Linked DNA regions of Homo sapiens: regions 2 and 3 are each reported to be linked to region 1. Evidence: microRNA targets listed by miRTarBase, many of them from high-throughput screens and not tested one by one. Region 1 holds a microRNA gene; each other region holds the end of a gene's coding sequence.

Region 1 (7,110 bases):
GGAGAATAGCTTGAACCTGGGAGGCGGAGGCTGCAGTGAGCTGAGATTGCACCACTGCACCCCAGCCTGGGTGACAGAGCGAGGCTCTATCTCAAAAAATAAAATAAAAAATTTAAAACCAACAAAAAAGAGGGTGATGGCTGAGTGAGGAGTCCATGGTGGGCCCTACACAGGGCCCAGGAAGGACAGGGCGGGAAGCGTGAGCATCCTGCCCACCGCAGTGGGTCCGCCATGGAGAGCATGACCTTAGAGAAGCAAAGCCGCCTGGCTCGAAGCAGTGGCCGCCCTGCTGACAGCTGTAGTGGCCGGGTGGCACTCGGGCTGGGGTCCGGGGGAGTCTAGGTGGCCACCTGGCTGTGTGCCTGTGCCTGCCCAAGCTGGGCACCTTTCCCTGGCAGTGCCTGGGAAGCTCGGCCGCCCTCCCTGGCTGGTGCTGCTCTGCAGCCCCGCTCATGGACTCTTGCCCACGGCCTGCTCCTTGTAGCAGGGTCGGGCCGTGGGAGGTCCGGACAGGATCTTGAATGGCCCTGTCTGCGGTCCTGGCTGGCCGGAGGTTGACCGCACTGGACAGGTCAAGGGCCTTAAACCAGGGTAGTGAGGAGCCTGCTGAGCCCCTGCTGCTCCCCGGGCTGCCTTTGGCGCTCGGACAGACACCCAAGGACAGAAGCTCGGACAGCTTCTAAGGCGAAGGGTCTCCCGGGGCTGATTTCCCGGGACTCTGGCTCCTGCAGAGAGGGCTGGAGGCGGGGCTCTGTGTTCCAGGGTCAGAGTCCTCCTGGTGGAAGCTGAGGTGCCTGATTAAATGCCTCCCTTTCTAGGCAGCAGCCCAGACGCGGCACAGAGAGGGCCTGGGAGCTTGCTGCAGCTTCAGGTGAGTTTGTTCCCAAGCCCTGCGGCTCGTTTATGGGTTTGCTTGCGCTGCAGAACTGTTTGTGGAGCAGCAGGGTTGGAGTGCCCACGGCTGGGGGGCCTCTCGGAGCCCTTGATTCACAGAACCCCTGGAGGCCGGCAGCCCTGCCTGCCCTGAAGAGCCTCGTTCTCCCAGCCGTTTGGGCCGTGGTCCTGTCGTGGGAGGCGACGGTGAGGGCGGCCCGGGGTCCCGACAGGGGTGTTTGTCCCTTTGGGGACCTCCCCTGTGCTGTGGCCCCGGCCCCCAGATGGAGCTCCCCATCCCCACGGCAGCGCTGGGGCTGGGGCTGGTGAGGAGCCTGTGCACGGCCCCCACCGCTATCCTCAGCCAGGAGGGTGCCTGGTCCCTGGGGAGCGGCCTGCACCTGTTTCTGGAGAATGCTGTCCTGCCAGTTGTCATTTGGGGCGGGCGGTCGGAGTCCACGTCCTCCCCCAGGGCGGGGCCCTGGCCTTGTTTCTTGTAGGGACGATGGGAAGCCCTGTCCTCAGCCCTCCCACCCGACTCATGCAGGAGCTTCCTGTCCTTGGGGTCATCTCCTCCACAGGGGCCTTAGCGTCAGTGGGGACAAAGGCAGAGTTGCCTGTCTTCAGGTTGTGGGCACCGACTGAGCTTCGTCCCGGTAGTGGCTGGCTCTTGTTTCCTGCCTGGACCAGCAGCCTCTGGTCTGGTGGGTGCAGTTTTAGGGCGCAGTGGGGTTGCCGTGGGGCAAGGCCAGGCCACCAGCTGCCTGGACACAGGGGCCCCCGCTTTCCATCTGCTGCCCCCCACACCCCCAGCTCGGGCAGGGGTGACACCGGGGCATCCTTGTTGGGGTCGCTGTGGTTCCCATGGTGGCAAGATGGCTCTGTGAAAGATTGACGGAGATGTAGGGCCCAGGAGCAGGTGCTGTGTGAGTGGGACACGCCTGTGTCACCTGCGGGGCAGGGGAGGGCTCGGGGGTACAGCCGTGTACATGATTAGTTAGCGAGACAGTGAGGAGTGTATGCGGAGTGGACACAGCTGTGGGTGCCGCCCGCGCAAGGCTGGGGGTCGCTGTGCCAGCCCTGCTCCCATGTGGGCTCCCAGCTCCCCAGGTAGGGACGCTGACCCCGGGAGGTGCCTTTGCCTGCATCCACTGGAGCCTCAGGAGCATGCGTTCCGTCCCCACGGGTCACCCCCACTGAGCCCACCACCTACCGAGAGGCACCTCGAGACCCTGTCCTGCCACGGGTGGGCTGTCAAGGCCAGCACCAGAGACCCCCAGCAGACCTCAGTGGCCGCAGATGGAGCGGGGCGGCAATGGTCACCTCCGGGACTCAGCCCTGTGCTGAGCCCCGGGCAGTGTGATCATCCTGGCCCTTCTCGTGCACGTCCCCTGGCTGGATGCTCCTTGCTGCCCTCACGGGGTGTGTGTGTGGCATACAGGACAGGGACCGGCCAGTTGGCCCTGCTCATTAACCACTTGTCCCCACAGGGCAGTGGCGGCCTCACCTCTGCAATTCTCTGAGGCTGGATCTAGGCCACCGCCCCGTTTAAAACTAGGGCATCGGCTCCCAGGGAGGGCGGGGAGCTGCACAGTTGGACTTGTGGGGGTCAGGCATGGATCCACACAGCCCGGGGCCCTCCGCACCCTGCCCCTCCAGGGAGCCCAGAGGCGGGCGTGGCTGCAGCCTGGCTCTGTGGCAGTCATGAGTCACGGCCACTCTTGAGGCGCCGCCCTGAGAGTCAGCCCTGTGGTCACGGCTCCTGCTGGTTCCCATTCGCGAGCACCTGAAACAGCCTGGCCCACAGCAGAGGCCCGGGGGGCACATGCAGCTCACGGGAGCAGCACAGATGCTTGGCCGGCGGCAGGCCCTACAGGAGCAGCAGCGGCCCAGGGCATGTCCCTGGGGTCAGGGGTCAGAGTTCGGCATGCTCTGCGGGGGCCTCACCCTGCTGTCCCTCGGCCTGGCCTGGGCACACTCCTTGGTGACAGTGCCCCTGCACGCCCCCCCCCCCCCCCGGTTATTCAGACAGGGAGCCAGGATGGGAACCACGGACTGACCTGACCTGCGTCCTCGGGGCCACTGCACTGGGTGATTCACGTGTGCCCAGGCCCTGAGGTGGGCCGGACCTGGGAGTGGCAGGTGAGCGTTCCTCCCAAGAGCCTCTGGCTGGCCGCAGCAGGCCCTGTCCCTGCTGTCCTCAGTGGCCCTGGACATGATAACCCCCCTGCCGAGGTCTGGCCGGAGCCAGCACCCACGGCCGAGATGCAGTCAGCCCTGGCTGGGCGCTGTCCCTGGGGGTGGCTGCTGGTGCTGCCCTCCCTCCTTCCCACCACTTCTTGCTCCTCTTTCCTGGGGCCCTCCCATCGGAGTCTTCCTCCTAAATGCAGTTCCCTCCCTCTAGGGGAACGCGGGCTGGGAGCCTATTTTTTTTTTTTTTGAGACGGAGTCTCGCTCTGTCGCCCCGGCTGGAGTGCAGTGGCGCGGTCTCGGCTCACTGCAACCTCCGCCTCCCGGATTCAGGCCATTCTCCTGCCTCAGCCTCCCAAGTAGCTGGGATTACAGGCGCCCGCCACCACGCCCAGCTAATTTTTTGTGTGTTTTTAGTAGAAACAGGGTTTCTCCATCTTGCGCAGGCTAGTCTTGAACTCCTGACCTCGTGATCCACCCACCTCGGCCTCCCACAGTGCTGGGATTACAGGCGTGAGCCACTGCACCTGGCCTGGGAGCCTTTTCCGTAGCTGCTCATCCTGTACTAGCATCTGTCCATCATGAGTGGACGGAACACAGGGGGACCCAGGACCCACAGCTGCACTCGGGAAGGCCAGCAGGGTGGATTTCGGGAAGAGCATCGGTGCCAGTTTCCCACAGTCACCCTTGCGATGGGACCCTCAGGTTGGCACGTGGCTGGCAGCTGTGTCCCGGGAGCTCTTGCTCCTTAGTGGGCCTCGCCAGCCAGGGCAGGGCCCCCGGCACCCCTCACGGGGCTCTTGACTCCTCTGGCAGCGGATCGGGGCGGTTCAGCGATACCATCTCTGGAGATCCCCTGGCGTGTGCTGGAAAAACCCCGGAGAGGGCTTAACAGAGCCAGCTGTCCAGCCTCTGTGACAGGGACGTTTGCTTTTCTCTGCAGGGTCCTCTCTTCTCTTCCGAGCACCCACGGGAGGGGACTGTGCTGTCCCTGCTCTCCTAGGACAGGCCTCCCTCCTGTCCAGATGGGGCCCACAGGGTCAGTTGCCTGAGACTGGCTCCAGCTCAAGAAAGGTTTTCTGAGTGAGCGCAGGGGAGCAGGAGGCTGGTGAGCAGCTCGCTTCCTGCCCTGGGTGCAGCTGGGCACCACTTCTGCCTTGGGCCTAAAGGCATCAGTGAGGAGCAGGCGGGGCCTGGTAGGAGCCTGTGTTTCTAGCGGCACGCGTGACCCCAGGTGCCACGTGGGTGAGTGCGTGGGTGGGTGAGTGGCGAAGGAGCTGAGGTTGGCCCTGGCAGGTGTGCAGTCCTCACACAGAACGGGCAGGGCTCCTGTCAGAGCCAAACCAGCTCAGGGCCCAGTGCAAGCAGCTTCTGTCCCGTGGCACCTCCGCTAGTCGCCGCTCCCACCCAAGCCCTGCCCCGCCCTGACCCGCTCAGGGTTTGGCTACAGAAGGGGAGTGTCGGAAATGCCCAACCCGTCTCCCGTGAGGGACTCCTGCGTGGCCTGGGCTGGGGAACGCAGGGGCCGTTTGGGTGGTTCCGGCGTCTGGCGTAGCCACGCGAGAGGCCCTGGGTTGATGCGTGGGCTCCCTGCTAGCGAGCCTGCTCCGTGCGTGCTGGGCTCCCGGCCTTGCTTCCGTGTGGCATTCGAGACCCCGTGGACCTCGCCTGCGTCCTGCATGTTTGAGCGCTGCCCCTTGTGGAGGCCGCCAGCACTGGTGGCTGCAGGGCCTGTAGTGTGGCACGTCCAGAGACCCGGCCTGGAGAACGGGTCCTGGATGTCTCCGTCATGTTTTACGTTCGCTTCACACGGACGCAGCGATGTCTCAGATACCTCGGATCACACAGAGCACGTCGCCAAGGCTTGTTTTGTCTGTTCCTTTCCACCTGTCTTACGTGGATACCAGGAGATCCGCCACGACTCCCGTGGCCCCGTCCACACTGCGCGGCGCTCTCCGGCGTGGCCGCCAGGTGCCCCTTCGAGGGCAGGTGTGAGTACAGGGTGGTCCCTGTGGAGAAGCGCCTGCAGGCGAGTGAGCCAGGCTGTGCCCTGCTGACCCCGAGGCCTGAATTTCATGGAACTCCCACCTCTCACAGAGTATTGTTTTTTTTTTTGATTTTTTTCCAACCATTTAAAAATGTAAAAGCCATTGTTGACTTGCGGGCTGGACCAGGCTTAGGGCTGGGCTCTGGTCCGCACCCCACACTGGCCCCGTGTGTCCTGTGACCGTTCTGCCTACGGGGCAGGCCTGAGCCACCACAGGATGGCAGGGTCTCCAGGGTGCAGGGCCCGCAATGCTTCAACCCTCCCACGACCCCAGCACCTTCAGAGAAAACGGACCCTCGTGCCGAGTGAAGTGGTTCAGGCGAACGTTATCACCACACGGGGGACTCGGCGGCTTCTGCCCCAGGCCTCAAAGGAGAGGGGATCCAGAATTCTCTGTCTCACCCCCTCAGCCCCTGCCCTTGAAGCTTCTGTCCCCAAGGCTGTGGGGAGGAACCAGGGAAGGGCTGGCGCGTCTGCTGTGCGATCCCAGGTGCTCGTGCCTCGCTGAGCTCAGCCCCTGTGGCCTCAGAGCTGCAGGCCCCTCCCGGGTGTCAGAGCACTGACTGGAAAGGCCCCCCACATCCCTGCCCTCTGCTGCTCCCCATCGTCGCGGGGGAGAAGCTGGAACTGCACCCCCACCCCCCCCAGCCCGCTCACCTAGGGCTGCCCCCAGGCCTCCCTGAGCTCCAAAGGATATGTTCTTTGGTGCTTTTTTTTTTTTTGGCTCTGTCTCCCAGGCTGGAATGCAGCTGTGGTGCTCACGCCATCCTCCCACGTCAGCCTCCTGAGTAGCTAGGTCTACAGGTGCACACCACCACACCCGGATAGTGTTTAGTTTTCTATAAAGACAGGGTCTCACTGTGTTGCCCAGGCTGGTCTCAAACTCTTGGGCTCAGGTGATCCCCCACGCACGGCAGCTTTGACACTTACTTGACCCTTTCCTCCTAAGCTCTACCCTGACGCTGGCTGTGTGTCCCAGAGACTTAATCAGAAGCTGGAAGAAGGGCTGTGACGTGTGTGACAGCAGGAACTGCTGGTCAACCCACAGCCGGCCAGCCTGCCGGGACGCCATCTTGGCCCCAATCTTGGCAGGGAGAGGGGAGTGTATCGGACTCTGGGGAGAGCAGCTGCCTGCACGGGCAGGGTCCTCCCGTCTCAGGATTAACGTTCTCAACTGTATTTGATTTCTCCTCAGCCAGAGGGGGTAAGGTGGCCTTCCCAGAAGCACAGGTGGGCCGCGTGTCAGAGGCCCTGGACAGCCTGTGCCTCTCCCAGGCCTCCCAGCAGGGGTGGCTCTCGCCCCTCTGGAGGGGAGACCCCAGGAACCGGCCCCCGCCCTCAGCCATAGCCTCACAGGGTCCTTGTTTCTCGGGGCCTGGCTCTGTGGGTGCACAAGGCATGGTCGGGCTCCCGTCCTTCTGGAAGTCTCCAGAGTGGCATGTGGGCAGCTGTGTGAAGCGGCCCCCCAGATCTTCATCCAGCCTGGCCTGCAGCAGCTCCCTACGCCCTCTGCTACCTCCCCTGCCTACCTTTGGGTAGACGTTCTCTTGACCCTTCCTTCTGTGATAAAGCAAAAGCGTGTGATCTCTTTTCTCACCAAGGAATAAAACGTCTCTGAATACCACAGACGTGATGCCGGGCTTTTGGGGGCCGGGGGGTGTCCTAGGGCCCCGAGGGAGGAGCCCTGTGGGTGCCGAAGTCGGGCCGCAGGCCCTGCACTGAGATGTCCCCTCAGCCTACCCCAGGCGGCTGGGCATGCTGGGAAGTCCTCCCGGGCTGTGTGTGTGAATCATGCTGTTTCTTCTCTATTTTCTCTCTCTGTCTGTTTATTTTTGTTGTGTGTCACTCTGCCCAGCCGGCCGTCCTGTCTCTTCCCTCCATGCTCCGCTTCGCCCGCTGCTGGCCAGAGGTGACCAGGTCCGGCTCTCAGCACGGCCGCCGGCCGGGGGGCCATGGGGAGCTCCGCCTCCTCCCTGGCCGCAGAGACCGAGTCGGACCAC
Region 2 (7,110 bases), not on the chromosome of region 1:
AGCTTCAATGTGCTGGCTTTGCCCTCAGGTTAGCTCCCTTCTGGGTCCAAATGTGGCTATAGCAGTTTCAGTCATCAAGTTCAGGCAAAATAATGTAAACAGGCAAAAAGAGTCTCTTGCAAGGTCTCCTTGGGAGTGAAGGAACTTTCCCCAGAAACACCCTCAGCAGAGTTTCCTCATGTCTCCTTTGCCAGGATGGAGTCCCATGGCCACTTCTAAAGCAATTACACCAAAGGTGACAGAGCTGGGATAACGTCCTACTTCCCTAAGCCACAAGGTGGGGGAAAGCAGTTACTCCTCAATATCCTGGCAAGGAAGCAGCAGCGATGCTGGAGAAGCAACCACCAGTGTCTGCCTTAGTCTCATCATTACTAACATTTGAGTGCACACCTATGTTCGCTGCAGGCTCCTAACATTTCCTCTAGAATCATTCTTTCCCACGGGGCCAAAATGAATCCCAGAGCAGCAGTTTTGTTACTTCTGGTAACCTAATGGGATGGCATTATCAGCAAGTCAAGAGTTAATCGGACTCTTAGCAAACAAGACACCCAGCAAGGTCTTTTATAGCCCAACTACTGCATCACTACCATGTCTTGTCTCTGTGTTTTCCTGTTGCAGATTCAGAACAGAAATCCATAGCCTTAATCTGATGAAGAAAAAGTACAATATAACCTGACAATCATATTTTTGTCTTTTTTCATTATTCACATACTCCTCATTTACTTTCCCTCTCAGGTCTAAGTTCCCTTTGTGTATTCTTGATATAGTTTCCCACCTTTATTAGACCCATTTCTTTTGAACAGTGTATTTTTGTACCCTAGTAACAAATAGCATCTCAGATTTTGACAGTTATGTTTATGTCCTTATGTTAACATGTCTAAGCTCTATGTATGACCTGGTACCTCGCATATACACATCTGAAGCTGTGTCATTACTGGGTCCCCTATTTTCCTTCTATTCCAGAGCTTATTTTTGAGATGTCCCCACTCATCTTCCTTTTAAATGAACACAGCATCATCCACATTTTCTCTGGCCTTTTCATAAGCTACTTCCATAAAGTTTAGAGTATACGTTGATGCCCAGCACTTTATTTCCAACATAAGGCCTTCTGACAGGTTTGCTAGCTTGCATGAGTTCTCAGACAAATCAGTGCTCTAAATATTTATTTTAAAATAAACCTTACAACCCTCTAAACTATGTGTTAATTTTTATAAATGAAAAAACTGAAGCTCAGATATTAAGTAACTTCTTCAAAATCACCCAGAACAAAGTCAGGCTTGACTCCAAAGCCCAGCTATTCTTGTGGTTTTCTGAACTCTGAGGACTGACGAACAGCATCAGTCAAAATGTAGATGTGTTAAAATTATCAGACTTAAAAAAAAATGCTCCTGAGAAACACTGGGGGAGTGGCACCCTAATGGAACCCAGGTGAGTGATGCCCACGGAAAACCATGTGGTAAGGAAGGACATAAGGGGAAACAGGTTCCAGCATGCAGGGAAGAAGAAAAACTATCTCGTCTGGCAGACAACTGAGAACTGGCCAACTCCCAGATGTCTTCCTGTATGTTCCTACAAGAATTCTGAGGGTCCCACTCTGCTGCGGCTTGTCCCGGTTCCCCTCCAGGTTCTGCTGCCTCCTTGTATTATTTAACTATAGCAAAGTTTCTCCCACTTCATTGTAAGACTTCCCTTACATCAAATAAGCTTCAAGAACATGTGTAGAAAATAAAAGATACCAAATAATGTTTGAATGTGTAATTACTACATTCTAAAACCAGCCAGACTCTTCTAAGACTTCTAACAACAAACCACTTCCAGAGCCATTTTAGAAAATGTGTTTACCCAACTCCTTTTTTATTGGTTGACTCACGTGGAAGAGATGGGCATTTCCTTTCCCCAAATGGGAATTTACTATGCCTACTCCATATTTCTTGAAAGCTGTCATTTTGAAAAAGAGGAATATGAAAAATATTAAAAGACAAACATCTGACATCACTGTCGAAGACTATAAAATAATGTAGTAAGTGAAATTGGTTTTCACATTTCAGTACTGCTTTAAACTCTGATATTTAAGAACTAAGTGTTTCTCATTTAGTTCTATCCATGATCTCTTTCAGAAGTCAACCACCTCCTGTGTAAAAGCCTCATAGAAGCCACTGCCTTCTGAAGGAAACACACCAACTGGCAGGGGGTCAGGGTAAGCCAGGAGTCACACCCAACTACCACTGCTCACACCCAAGAACCCCACCCTACCCTGGCCACAAAAACTGTGCCTAGACTCCAGCACAGCCTGCAGCTGTGTTTCAATTATAGCTGTGTTTGTAATTATAGGTCATGTGCCTTCTCCCCCACCCCAATCACTCCACCCCAATCACTCCATTTGGCTAACAAGTGACCATATTATAACACAAAAATGGAAAACAAACTGGAATGCTCGAAAAAGTTACAAATAAAAACGGTATGAAGGCATATTAAATTTTGGCTGATACTTCCCTTTGATTTTGCTAAACTATAGCAAAGGCTGGCTCAATGTTGATTTTTACTGAAGAGTATCATTAACTGAAGAAAGAAAAAAAGACATAAACAGTAGTGAAATAAAGAATAGGCAAATACACCAGAATTATGAATAGAAGCCATTTTAAAGAAGAGAAATATTCTACAACAGATGAAGAAAGTTTTAATTTCTTTTCACATTAAACATTGTTTACCACAATCAGCTAACAGAAATTACTGTAACATTGGTCACGATGACTTCATAAAACTAAAGATAAATGTTATGAGGAAACTTCATTTAACGTGAATGGTAATGTTAGATACTGTATTTTTCCATGGTAAAATACAACTTATCTTGAAGAGAAAGCAAATAGTTCAGATCAGGGAGACATGCTGAGGTTTTAATAAAGAAAAGCTTGGCCTTGTCCAGAACACTTAACAAAGTTCAGGACAATTTAGGTAAAAGAGATGAGTGAGACACCAGCGTTAGGCAGGGACATAGGCTCATCATTCAGGCTTTATGTACATTACTGGATCTATGCAGCTCTCACCTTTAGATAAGTGAGCTATATTTTTGGCAGAGGGATCTTCAAAAGTAGCCTTGGATATGAGGAATCGTATTTTAACCACCAGGCAGTCCAAGGAATTATTTTTAAAGGGACAGCTGAGTATTTCACGTATATACTATTAAGGCATCTAAATTTTTGGTGTTTTCAGTATATAATTTTACTGCTACTTTTTATTCTTTTTTTTCATATTGTACAACTATGATATTAGGTATTAAGCGACGTAATTCTTTCTCTACTAGTGAACCAGTTTATTTCACTTAGCAAACTCTAAATTGAGGGAAATATATAATCTGAGAACACACAGAAAAATATATTGAAAAACCAATAGAGAATTATTTTTAACCATCATAAAAACTCAATCTTAATTAACTGATAGTCTTTAACTTAAAAAAAGAGTAATCAGAATGAAAATAGGTATTAAAAATAATTACCAGTAGTTTGTTTTACAAAATAGAGCCATAAATTGTTTAATTGCCCAATTAAGCAACTACCAGATTCTTTAGTCAACACTAACAGAATTCACATTTCAGCTAGTCAACAAAGCATATAAATATTTAACATCTCTTGAAGATAACATTTTAGTGATAACGGAGACTACATAATTCTATCCATTGTTGTGACTGTCCACAAATTAACCAGGTTAAATATCAAAGATACATTGGGAATACTCCCCAAAACAACAACAGAATATTAATTAAATGAATTTTAAAAGCTTAAGAAATGAAAGTAGAAAACATGAATGAGACGGTGCTTAAACAATTATTGACCTAATCAAGACCTTTAAAATTACCACCAAAATGCACTATCATTTTTTTTTTATTTAGTTTACAGGAAGAATCTGTAAGTACAGGTTGCAGAAAGAAAACGTTTAGTGCTATTTACATTCATTTTAAAACTCTGCTCTATACAAATTTAATTCTGATCAGTATGAACAATATTTTCGTAGATCTACTGCATATAAAGCCTTTTCATCAAAGCATTAACAATGAATAAAATAACATGATTACATTTAAACAACGCTGACCATTTGAAACCATTTACATTTAATGTTTGTAAGGGCTGTTGACACTTAGTACAGAATGTAATGTCAGCCTGCAACTTCATTTTTATAAAGGCTAAACTTATTTATATGGAATATTGTTCTGTATACTACGCGCCAATCTATATTTTAAGTCCTGTAGTTAGGTATTTTATAAGTCTTTTATTAAATATATTCTACACATATTTGTAATTTCATCCAGGAAGAATTTCTTCCCAGTGAAAAAATATAAAAATCTTTCATATTTTTACAGGTTTAGATGAAAGTAGCTCATGCTTTAGTGCTGTGCAAATTGTTTTTAGCATATCAATCTTTAAATTATTGGTATGAAATAAAAGAAAAAGTGGCATTCTTGTGTATGCCATAAAAATCAGCTTTTGACTTTAATACAATTGCAAGCACTAATATCAAACGCAAACTATATAAAGAAACAAAATTAGTACTATGGAGTTTTTTTTTAATTTTAAGAATTCATCTGAACTCTAAGGAGTAAGCATGACACTGGATGTGGTTACAAATTAATGATAATTATGGAAAATTTCAATTTGCTGATATTCAAATACATAAAATTGATCAATGAGGTTTTCTAATATTTCTGCACAATAATGAAAGCCGATGAGTGACTGAAACTACCCTCCCACATTAAGGCTAGGAGACGCACTCTCACCCCTTCTTGTGCTGTCTAAACAAACACTCAGTTACTGTAGGACTCAAGAGTGCATGTCTTAAAGGAAAAAAAATTAGTTTCATCAGCCCTCTACTGAGTGCTTTAAACAGGCACATTTTGTTTTTTCATTTGTTGCAGTGAAAATAGTCACACTCAGTTTAGTATTCTGTGCCAGTGCAGCCACCACGGCTGACTTTGGTAGAATTCACCCAACATTTTAGTTTCTTTTCCATTTTTTCCTCTCAAGTTGGCCCAGTAATTAACTTCATTAATTGCTGAGTGTCTTCCAGTGTGGAATTGTATATATAAGTATTTCTAGATACCACACACTGTTATAAATTCTGCTGATGAGGAAAATAATGCCAATCTTTTTAATGCAAATTGTATTTGGAACACTTGATTTATTAGTTCTGATGATGAAAATTTTGTGGCAGCAAAATGGTTTCTGCTACGAAAGATAACTTGTTAACTTTTCCCCTGGAGATTGACTGCATTCAAAAACCAATATGTGTTAAAACAGCTCAACAAAAAATACAAGAAATAAAAAATCAGAGTGAAAAATGTTCTTGGTTCTTTTTACTTTCATGAGAAAAGATGACAGTGTTCATGTGGTAATTCAGTTCCATGTGTTTACAGGCAGACTGTTCTGAACGGTTTCTGAAGCAATGTCGGGTCTTTTCTGTCCCAGCAGCATGAAAGACAAAGACTATATCACATCACACTAGGCAGACAGTGTTTACAGGATTACACAACAATTACTCTCTCCAGTCTTCTCACGATTCCTCTGACCTAGGGAAAACGAAGAAGAGCCTCGTTTATAAAAATTCTAGAACTGGAGGGGAAAATGGGCTAGGCAATCAAGTGTAGGAAGTAGTAGTTTTGAGTTTTTAAAAATGTTTGCATTTTTCAAAATTAAGAAGCTGTAATAAATGTTCTTTTAATTTTAGCATGTTTCAAAAATGTCTGGTTATTTGCTTGACAATCTCTATTCATAAACTATGCAAACTTCCCTTCCCTCAGCATATCCAAGAAAAACCTAGCATTTTTGAATGCCTGTCTTTGTGCCTCAACTGAGATACTTTTCCAGTGCATGGCTTACCTTGAGAGTTTGGCTCTGGTAATGTCTCTCTGGCCACCAAATGCATCACTGTTGTTTTGCCAAAAGGAAGTTTTAATGCTATGTGAAAAGCAAAAGATGATTAGTTACACATATATCGACCTATTAAAATCACTATCCAGATTTAAAACCATTTTAAAAATTGATTGCTTTTTTATGACTTCTTTAACAGATTCAACTTAACTCAGAGTACCTTCACAAAATTAGGTTAATATTATCAGAAATAACATTTAAAATTTAGAAATTATTTTTTGCAGTTATATAGCCATTTGCTTGACACATTTATCCATATTAAGAGATGATATAAGAAAAAATATGTAATTGGCTAATATCAGAGGCCACCTTTAGAGGAGAAAGGATTAAATTTTTTTTAAAAGAATACTCTTTTCTATATTAGGTAAAAGTTTAGATTAAGAGATATTCATTTCTAAATCTAATTACTTGTCTATTGCCTAATAAAATTACTGCACTGAACAGGCTACTATGATGTAGAAATGCAAGAAATAAACTTGATTTTAAACATTTATTCTCACCCTGTATTCGTCCATTAGAAAAGAACTTTCTTAAAAAGATTAGGTTAAAATAATCACTTTCTTGGCATTATCAATAATCACTGTTTCCTAATCAAGTCTTTATAACATTTTTTCACTCATAAATTTAATAAATTTTATCATGAAATATTTCAGACATAGAACACACACCCATGTCCACTAAGGCAAATACAAATACTGAGTTTCATGGTAAATCCCTTTGTTACTCTGTGTATAAAATTAGAAGCAGCTGGTATATTTAGCTTCTAGAACTGTTTCTATAGTTGTTATGTTTTAGTTCTGACACCTCAAACTACCCTCTCTTCAAAAACTACAAACTGAAGTAAGGCCTAAGATCATCACTTAGCAATAATGATCCTCCACTCCAGCTACCTGCTTTTTAAAACCTGCTCTATAGGATGATGGTTAACATGCAGATTTTAAAAAGAATCCTAATTATCTTCAACACTAGTACTATTTCATATATTCAAGGTGAGTTCCAATCTCATTTAAAGTTGGCCAGCCATTATTTGGTCTACACTTTTAACCTCTGATGTTCAAATGAAGCACGATGGCCCATAAATACATAATGAAAAAAGGGAGGCTTTTAGAATAACTTCCTAGGCCTGACTTAAATCAAAATGTAAGTAAGACTTTATGTTATTAAAATTTTCACTAAATAGTTGGGAAAGCCT
Region 3 (7,110 bases), not on the chromosome of region 1:
TTGACAGTATGCAAAATCCTTAAAATCATGGACACTTTTGATCAAGCAATTCCATATGTAAGAGTTTATCCTAAGCAAATCATTAGGATGTTGGTCAAAGTGTACAGTGTTAGGAGGAATACATTTTTTGAGATAACACTGCACAACATGGTAACTACAGTTAATAATGGTGGTGCTGGGCACGGTGGCTCACACCTGTAATCCCCGCACCTTGGAAGGCTGAGGTGGGTGGATCGTTTGAGCCCAGGAATTCGAGACCAGCCTGGGCAACATGGTGAAACCCCATCTCTACCAAAAAAAAAAAAAAAAAAAAAAAAAAAAAAAAAAAAATTAGCTGAGCATGATGGTGCATACCTGTAGTCCCAGCTACTTGGGGGGCTGAGGAAGGAGGATCACTTGAGCCCAGGAGGTGGAGGTTGCAGTGAGCCGAGATAGTGCCATTGCACTCCAGCCTGGATGACAGAGTGAGACCCTGTCTCAAAATAAATGAATAAATAAATAATGGTGGACTGCGTATTTCCAAATTGCTAAAAGAGTAAATTTTAAATGTTCTCACCACACAAAATGATAAGTATTTAAGGTGATAGATGTTAATTATGTTGATTTAATCATTTCACTCGTGTGTGTGTGTGTATATGTATATATAGAGAGAAAATATTGCTTTGTACCTTATATAAAATTATAATTTGTCCATTTATAATATTTAATAATAAAAGTAAATTATTAGGGACGTACTTAGAGCTACAAAGATGCTGAATTGTTTATAATGGCAAAAATTCCCTGCATCTATTAAAACTTCATACTATCTGTTAAGATTTCATATTTATTATGTAGCTAAAGGGAAAAAAGTAGTTGCAAAACAGTATGATCTCATTTCTAGACTCATCAGCATTTGGCACAGTTGCGTCCTTCCTGAAACTTTCTTCAGTTGGACTCTCTTGGTTTTTCTCCCCTCTCATTGGACTCTGCTCCATCTCTTTACCTCCTTGGTCCCTGGTTGGAGGGCCCCAGTGATGAGCACTCAGCTTTGTGGATGTCTTCTTCTATAGCTACACTCCCTAGGCCTAAATGAGCTTCTGTCAGTCTTGTAGCTTGCACAGTCTACAACCAAAGATTCCTGGATTTCCATCTCCAGCCTGGACCTCTTTCCTAAATTCTCAATTTGGTTATCCAGCTGTTTACTCAACAAGTCCATCTACATGGCTGAGTATCTCAAAATTAACATGTCTAAGATATGATTCTTCTTTTACCCTCCAAGCCTGTCCTCCCAGTTACTCAGGTCAGAAGCCCTCAGCTGGGTGCAGTGGCTCACACCTGTAATCCCAGCACTTTGGGAGCCCGAGGCGGGCAGAATTACCTGAGGTTGGGAGTTGGAGACCACCCTGACCAACATGGAGAAACCCCATCTCTACTAATACAAAATTAGCTGGGTGTGGTGGCACATGCCTGTAATCCCAGCTAGTCAGGAATCTGAGGCAGAACCGCTTGAACCCAGAAGGCAGAGGTTGTGATGAGCCAAGATCGAACCATAGTACTCCAGCCTGGGCAACAAGAGTGAAACTGTCTCAAAAAAAAAAAAAAGCCCTGAAGTCGTACTTGACCTTGCTCTTTCTCCCATACCACACATCTAGCCTTCGGCACAACATACCTTCAGAACATATCCAGAATCCAGACACTTTTTTCTAACTCTTCCCTCTATCACCTGGTTCAGACCTCCTCCATCTCTGGCCTGCTTTACTGGAATAGCTTCCAACTCACCTTTCTGCTTCTGTCTATGCCCCATGGTCATCTGTTCTCAACACAGCAGCCAGAGTAAGTCTTAAAAATGTAAGCGCAATCATGTCACTGCTCTGCTCAGAATCCTCCAGTGGGTCCCCAGCTCAGACTAAACGCCAAAGTCCGCACAGTGGCCTACAAGCCTCTGTTCCCTCTCTGCCTTACTCATTGTTCCCCAGGCCTCCTGGTCTCCTTTGTTGTTCCCTCAAAGTTCTACCTGAGAACCTTTGTACTTTTGTTGTTCCCTCTGCCTGGAATGTTCTTCCCTATGGACATGATTCATTCTTTCACTCTTTTCAGGTCTCTGCTCAAATACCACATCCTCAGTGTGATCTTGTTCCTTGACTGCTCCAGGCATGCTCCTGCATCAGGATCTATCTGCCTGGAGCTCTTCCCCTAGGTATCCCTCACTGCTCAAACTTCCCCATTGAGAAGCCTCCCCGGACCCCCACTACCATTGTCCTCAGCACTCCCCGCCTCCCTCACTCTGCTTTTTCCCCACAGCATTTGCAACCATCTGCTCTGTATTCCCTCCCCTGTGCCTCTTACCCAGCAGATGTCAGCACATGTGGACGCCACACAGCAGGGACTCTGCTCTTTCGTTCAGTTCACTGACATATCCCCAGGACCTAAACAGTGCTTGACATATAGTAGATACCCAGTAAATATGTGGTGAGTGAAATAATTTTTCATAGAAAGTCTGGAAGGACATATACTAGTATTTTAAAATCCCCTCTGGGGTTATGAACATGGATGATGAATGTATTCTTTTTGCATAGCTGTATTTTATAATTTTCTTTATAATGATGTGTTTATGTCATGCCAATTGTATAAACATGATCTTATATATTTGTGATTTTTTTTCTCCCTCCCAGATAGGAGCATGCTGCTATGTGGAATGTTCAGCTTTAACCCAGAAGGGATTGAAGACTGTTTTTGATGAGGCTATCATAGCCATTTTAACTCCAAAGAAACACACTGTAAAAAAAAGAATAGGATCAAGATGTATAAACTGTTGTTTAATTACGTGAGAAACATCTTCAGTGGCCAAGGAAACTGTCCATTTCTCTCAGAAAGCAAATGAAATGCTACAGCTATACCCAGACCTTTTATAGGTAATGAAGCAGTTCAAAACTTGAAAGAAAACAAAACCTGTCCTCAGAATTCTATAAAGTGTATTAAGAATGTTCCTTAAAGGTTTAAGAAGCAGTAAGCAGCATCTGAAGCCACAATCTATTATAAATACTTTATTTCAACTAGAAGGTACAATCTCTCAGGGGTTTCATAGTTTAAAAAGCTACAATCACATCATGTTGTAACTACGTAAAAAACAGAGCTGTAAATGGAACTGCTTGGCTTTGACCATACACATTTCTGCCCAGCCCTTACAGAATCTGCACAAAGAAATATCTCCCTTTGCTCCAGTTAATTGTTCTTGTATGTAAGTTGCTTTCTATTCCAGTATATCCAGAGTGGTGAAATAACAAGGCCAGCCACGTAGCCAAAGGTCGCTCCAAGCGTACAGGAGATGGGCCATACCTGAGGAGAGAATGTATGAGATCAAAAAAGAACAAATGTTTTATTATTACTTGAGCACAAGTGTAACCTAAATATTTCTATATTAAAGCTTAATGTGCTTTCTTAAAGAATGCCAAAAGTGTAATAAGGTCATAACTGCATTTATCATGAACACTAAAAATGTACACATTTTAGTTAATGTGCATTAAACTGTAACAAGGCTTCTGGCAATTGTAGATTTAGTTTGACGCTCCCCAAAGTGCATGAGACACATGCTAAAATTACAAATTAAAATTTTGGGTCAGACTTTGCCATAATGATAGACTCAATTTAGCTCTCTGAACTAGTTGGTAATTTTTTTTTTTTAATTCCCACTTTGGCTGTGTACATCAAATGAAATGAGAAGTGTGTATGCTGACCAAACCACAAGAAACTTTCTTTAAGTTGTGTTAAAGAGGAAAGACCTAGAATCCAAGCGTGTTACATGAAAATTGTAACAGAGCAGCTGCTTCCACCTTTCAGATATAGATGTTGGAACCACAGCAGAAGTTATAGAGCGACAACTTATATACACACCTAGAATGTAAGTTAAACAAAATACCGGCTTCCAGAGACCCCTTTTCTCCAGCCATATTACATCAGGCTAGAAGTAATTAATGTTGATTTATTTCATCTACAAGCAGTTGGTCCCTAAGTGAAAGGCTCTGCTTGAAAAAAAAAAGAAAAAAAAGTTGGAGGAAAATTTTCATGTTCTTCTGTGAAGCTTATTTGGTACACTGGAGCCATTTCTAATCTTTCTCTGGGGGGAACAGGCCACAGAACTGTGTTAGAGGTGAACCATCTTAATTACTAGTTCTATTACCTAATTCAGCTTCCTTGTTTGGTCTGCTGTGGATCTGCCTTATTGCATATGCCATGCATCAGATAATGGATGCATCAGATAATGGTGTTAGACAAAGCTTCATTGTGAACAACCTAATGCATTTTAGAGAAACAATCTCATCACATTTTTTCTAGCCTTTCCTACATTTAAACTTGCTGTTGCCCAAATTATAATTTTTTAAATGTCTTTGGTGGGCTTCTGTTAATTCACATGACTTGAGCTTATAGCTATGTCTACTGCACAGATTGGGTAATGGAACACTAAACTTTTATACTTGAAAATGACAGCCTTAAATGCTCATATCAGTCACAAATCTAGGATGTACTGTCTTGTTGTATGTGAGCTTTGTAGAGATTTTTAAAAATATAAGCATCACCTTCCCATTGAAGAGTGGAGAGAGTCTACTGGATGACTGGCCAGGAACTTTCTCTCTGAATCGGACATTTGGATGTCTTCTTTCTTCCAAGAAATGGTGGTTCACATTAAAGTATCATGGCCTTATGTATGCTCAAATGGAATCTTATGTAACTTTCTTATTTAATTTTGGTCTGCTTATTTTTAGATAAAATTGAAAGGAATTGTATAAATCAATTAACATATTAGCTGAGTTGTCCAACACATGGTATAAACGAATTACAACAGTAAACTATTACACATTTCCAACTTGCCTTTGGGGATTTATGAGGATTTTTTTTGGTGGGGGGAGGGGGCTCCAATTCATATCTCTGAAACCCTTCACACTTGGTTTACTAATTCAAAGTTAGAAGTCTAGAATTTGCCCTGCCCTAACAGAAACAGATTAGGAATTTGTCTACACAAACTGGTGTCACCTGTTTCTTGACTGGGATTTGGTTTCCTCATTATAAATATGGGAGGTAGAACAGAGATCTCCAACGTCTCTCCCATTTATCACAGTAATTTTCTTATTCACAGTAATCATTGTTGGATGTTACCTTTTCAGCTTCACATTCTCAAGATGGTAAAAATCATGTATATAGATTATCAGAACTCTAAGCAAAGATGACTGTCACATCTGAAGCTGAGGTGCCTTAGGTACTCTACTGACCTTGATGGGTTTGGAGTTCCCCATTGCTTATCAAGAGCTTTTTAATTGCTTTGGTTCTTTAGTTTTTCTTTTTGCAAAAATCCTTCCTGTCACTTTAACTAAAAACCAAAGATTTGTTTTCTATTGATAAGCAGACTAGAGAAAAACTGCCTTATTTTCAGAAGCATGTCTTCATTCAAAGCTTAGGCTTCAATAGAAATTCAGACTAATCACTGAAATGACTATTTCAAACTAGTGAAATATCTGGGAAATAAACTGCTTCAAAAATATTTTACTGACATGAATTTTGCTAGTGAATACAAATACACTGCCTCAAATAAGGCCATGTATGAATGAACTTACAAGATATTTGAGTTAATCAGTGTTTGCATATAGAGAATTAGTTCTAAAGTTCTTAAAAATAAATTTAGGGGCTCCCTGAAATTTTATTTAATACTTTGCTAACTTACACTCTTGTTTTATCTCCACAGGTACATTTTAGGTTAGCTCATGGTGAATTCTATTTACAATAAGTGGAGCTTGGATTAATGGGTTTTGTTATGAATTATCTTAGTGACTTTAGACACTGTTTCCATTTGATTTTTAACTATTTAAAATACCAAATTAAATACCAGTTTGTTGGTTGTTACTTTTAAATGATTGTTACTTTAACAGTGTCCCTTCTTAACACATGGGGTTACAAATAAAATACTATGCATAGTTTACTATCTACGTAAAGCACTGAACTTTTTACCTTAGTAGTTTTTATTTATTACCCTATGTAAACATTTAGGATAATACTCTTTCCTCTATTTATGCTGAGAGTCTACTAATCATTGGCAAAGTATGAGTCCCTATACTCTGTTAAAAAAAGCTCACTGTTAAAGTATAGGGAGAATAGTAATCCCTCATGAATCCCAGCTAGATTCCAATTTGGGTTACTAAATTGTATTTTAATCATTTTGTAATTTCAGTATGGCTCTTTGTTCTCAAACACATACATACCACCACGCACATTCTTTTAAACAGCTGCCACACCTCACCTCCAACAGAATGCCAAAAATGAAATGTTAAAAAATTTTGTCTAATGAAGGGTTACGGCTTGGAACACTTGGTTATTCATGTTATGTAAATCAAGAAGTGCATGCCATCAGCAAATTAAAATGTGGACTGGCTTTGAAGACTGTTAATGATGGGTCAGGCTTTGTACTTACAAGAGTACCTCCTTGGCTTTCCTGAAATAAGCATTTCTTAATCGTAACCCTGTCATTTTTTTAAAAGAGAATTTCTTTAAGGGCCGTTTTCATGATTTTTGAAGATCAAAATAGATTATCAAAATAGGGAACAGCAAAAGGAGGGAGGCTGCCCACTAAGAACTATTCCTCAAGCAAGTTTCCTACTGATTTTCTTATAATTATTCTAAAAATTTTTAAACTACACTATGGCAACAGAATTCATTTGTAAATCCTAGCTTAATCAGGTATTTTCATAATTAGATCCTAAGGTTTTCCTTTAAAACTATTTCCTTATCTCACATACAGACATGTTTCTATTCAACGTTCTTCATGCCACAAATAGGATTTTTTAAAAAAGTGATATCTATTAAATACATAATTCAGCTGCACTGCTATAAAGATTTCTCCAAATTATGGTAATCTGAGATGGCTTTATATAATTATTTTGTTTAAAGAAAATAGGAAACTTAGAACAAAGACATTCATGTAAAGGAAGTCATTCACAAGTGTTTGCCACCAAAATGACAAGGGCCCAAGCACTGGAGGCCAGCCTGGGCAAGATAGTGAGAGTTTTTTATAAATTTACATTTTTTTAGCCAGTAAATAGAAGAAACAACCTATGGTGTATAATCAAATATATTACAACTCAAGTG

What was found. The annotated mature microRNA hsa-miR-5587-5p reads AUGGUCACCUCCGGGACU and lies in region 1 at 2,189-2,206, shown strand. An mRNA with a match to its seed (bases 2 to 7 or 8) in the 3' UTR can be bound and repressed. Matches are read on the target gene's strand: a 7mer-m8 pairs with bases 2 to 8, a 7mer-A1 pairs with bases 2 to 7 and ends in A, and an 8mer does both.
Region 2: the mRNA of UBL3 is a reported target of hsa-miR-5587-5p. Seed matches in the 3' UTR shown: 8mer at 2,739-2,746.
Region 3: miRTarBase lists RHOQ as a target of hsa-miR-5587-5p. Seed matches in the 3' UTR shown: 7mer-A1 at 3,710-3,716.

Annotation. Positions count from the first base shown.
Region 1 is chr16:533,128-540,237 of GRCh38, forward strand. MIR5587 (microRNA 5587) reads left to right here and starts at 2,189; the gene lies at 2,189-2,241. CAPN15 (calpain 15) reads left to right here. Exons shown (of 14, transcript NM_005632.3): 2 at 819-871; 3 at 2,902-3,015.
Region 2 is chr13:29,761,751-29,768,860 of GRCh38, forward strand. It overlaps UBL3 (ubiquitin like 3), which reads right to left. Exons shown (of 5, transcript NM_007106.4): 4 at 5,868-5,945; 5 at 2,621-5,557. The coding sequence ends at 5,505. Among named protein-coding and RNA genes, the nearest start is that of UBL3, 85 kb to the right of the region's middle.
Region 3 is chr2:46,578,277-46,585,386 of GRCh38, forward strand. RHOQ (ras homolog family member Q) reads left to right here. Exons shown (of 5, transcript NM_012249.4): 5 at 2,652-6,412. The coding sequence ends at 2,807. It overlaps PIGF (phosphatidylinositol glycan anchor biosynthesis class F), which reads right to left. Exons shown (of 6, transcript NM_002643.4): 6 at 2,661-3,315. The coding sequence ends at 3,202. It overlaps RHOQ-AS1 (RHOQ antisense RNA 1), which reads right to left and starts at 1,962. Exons shown (of 2, transcript NR_104182.1): 1 at 1,759-1,962.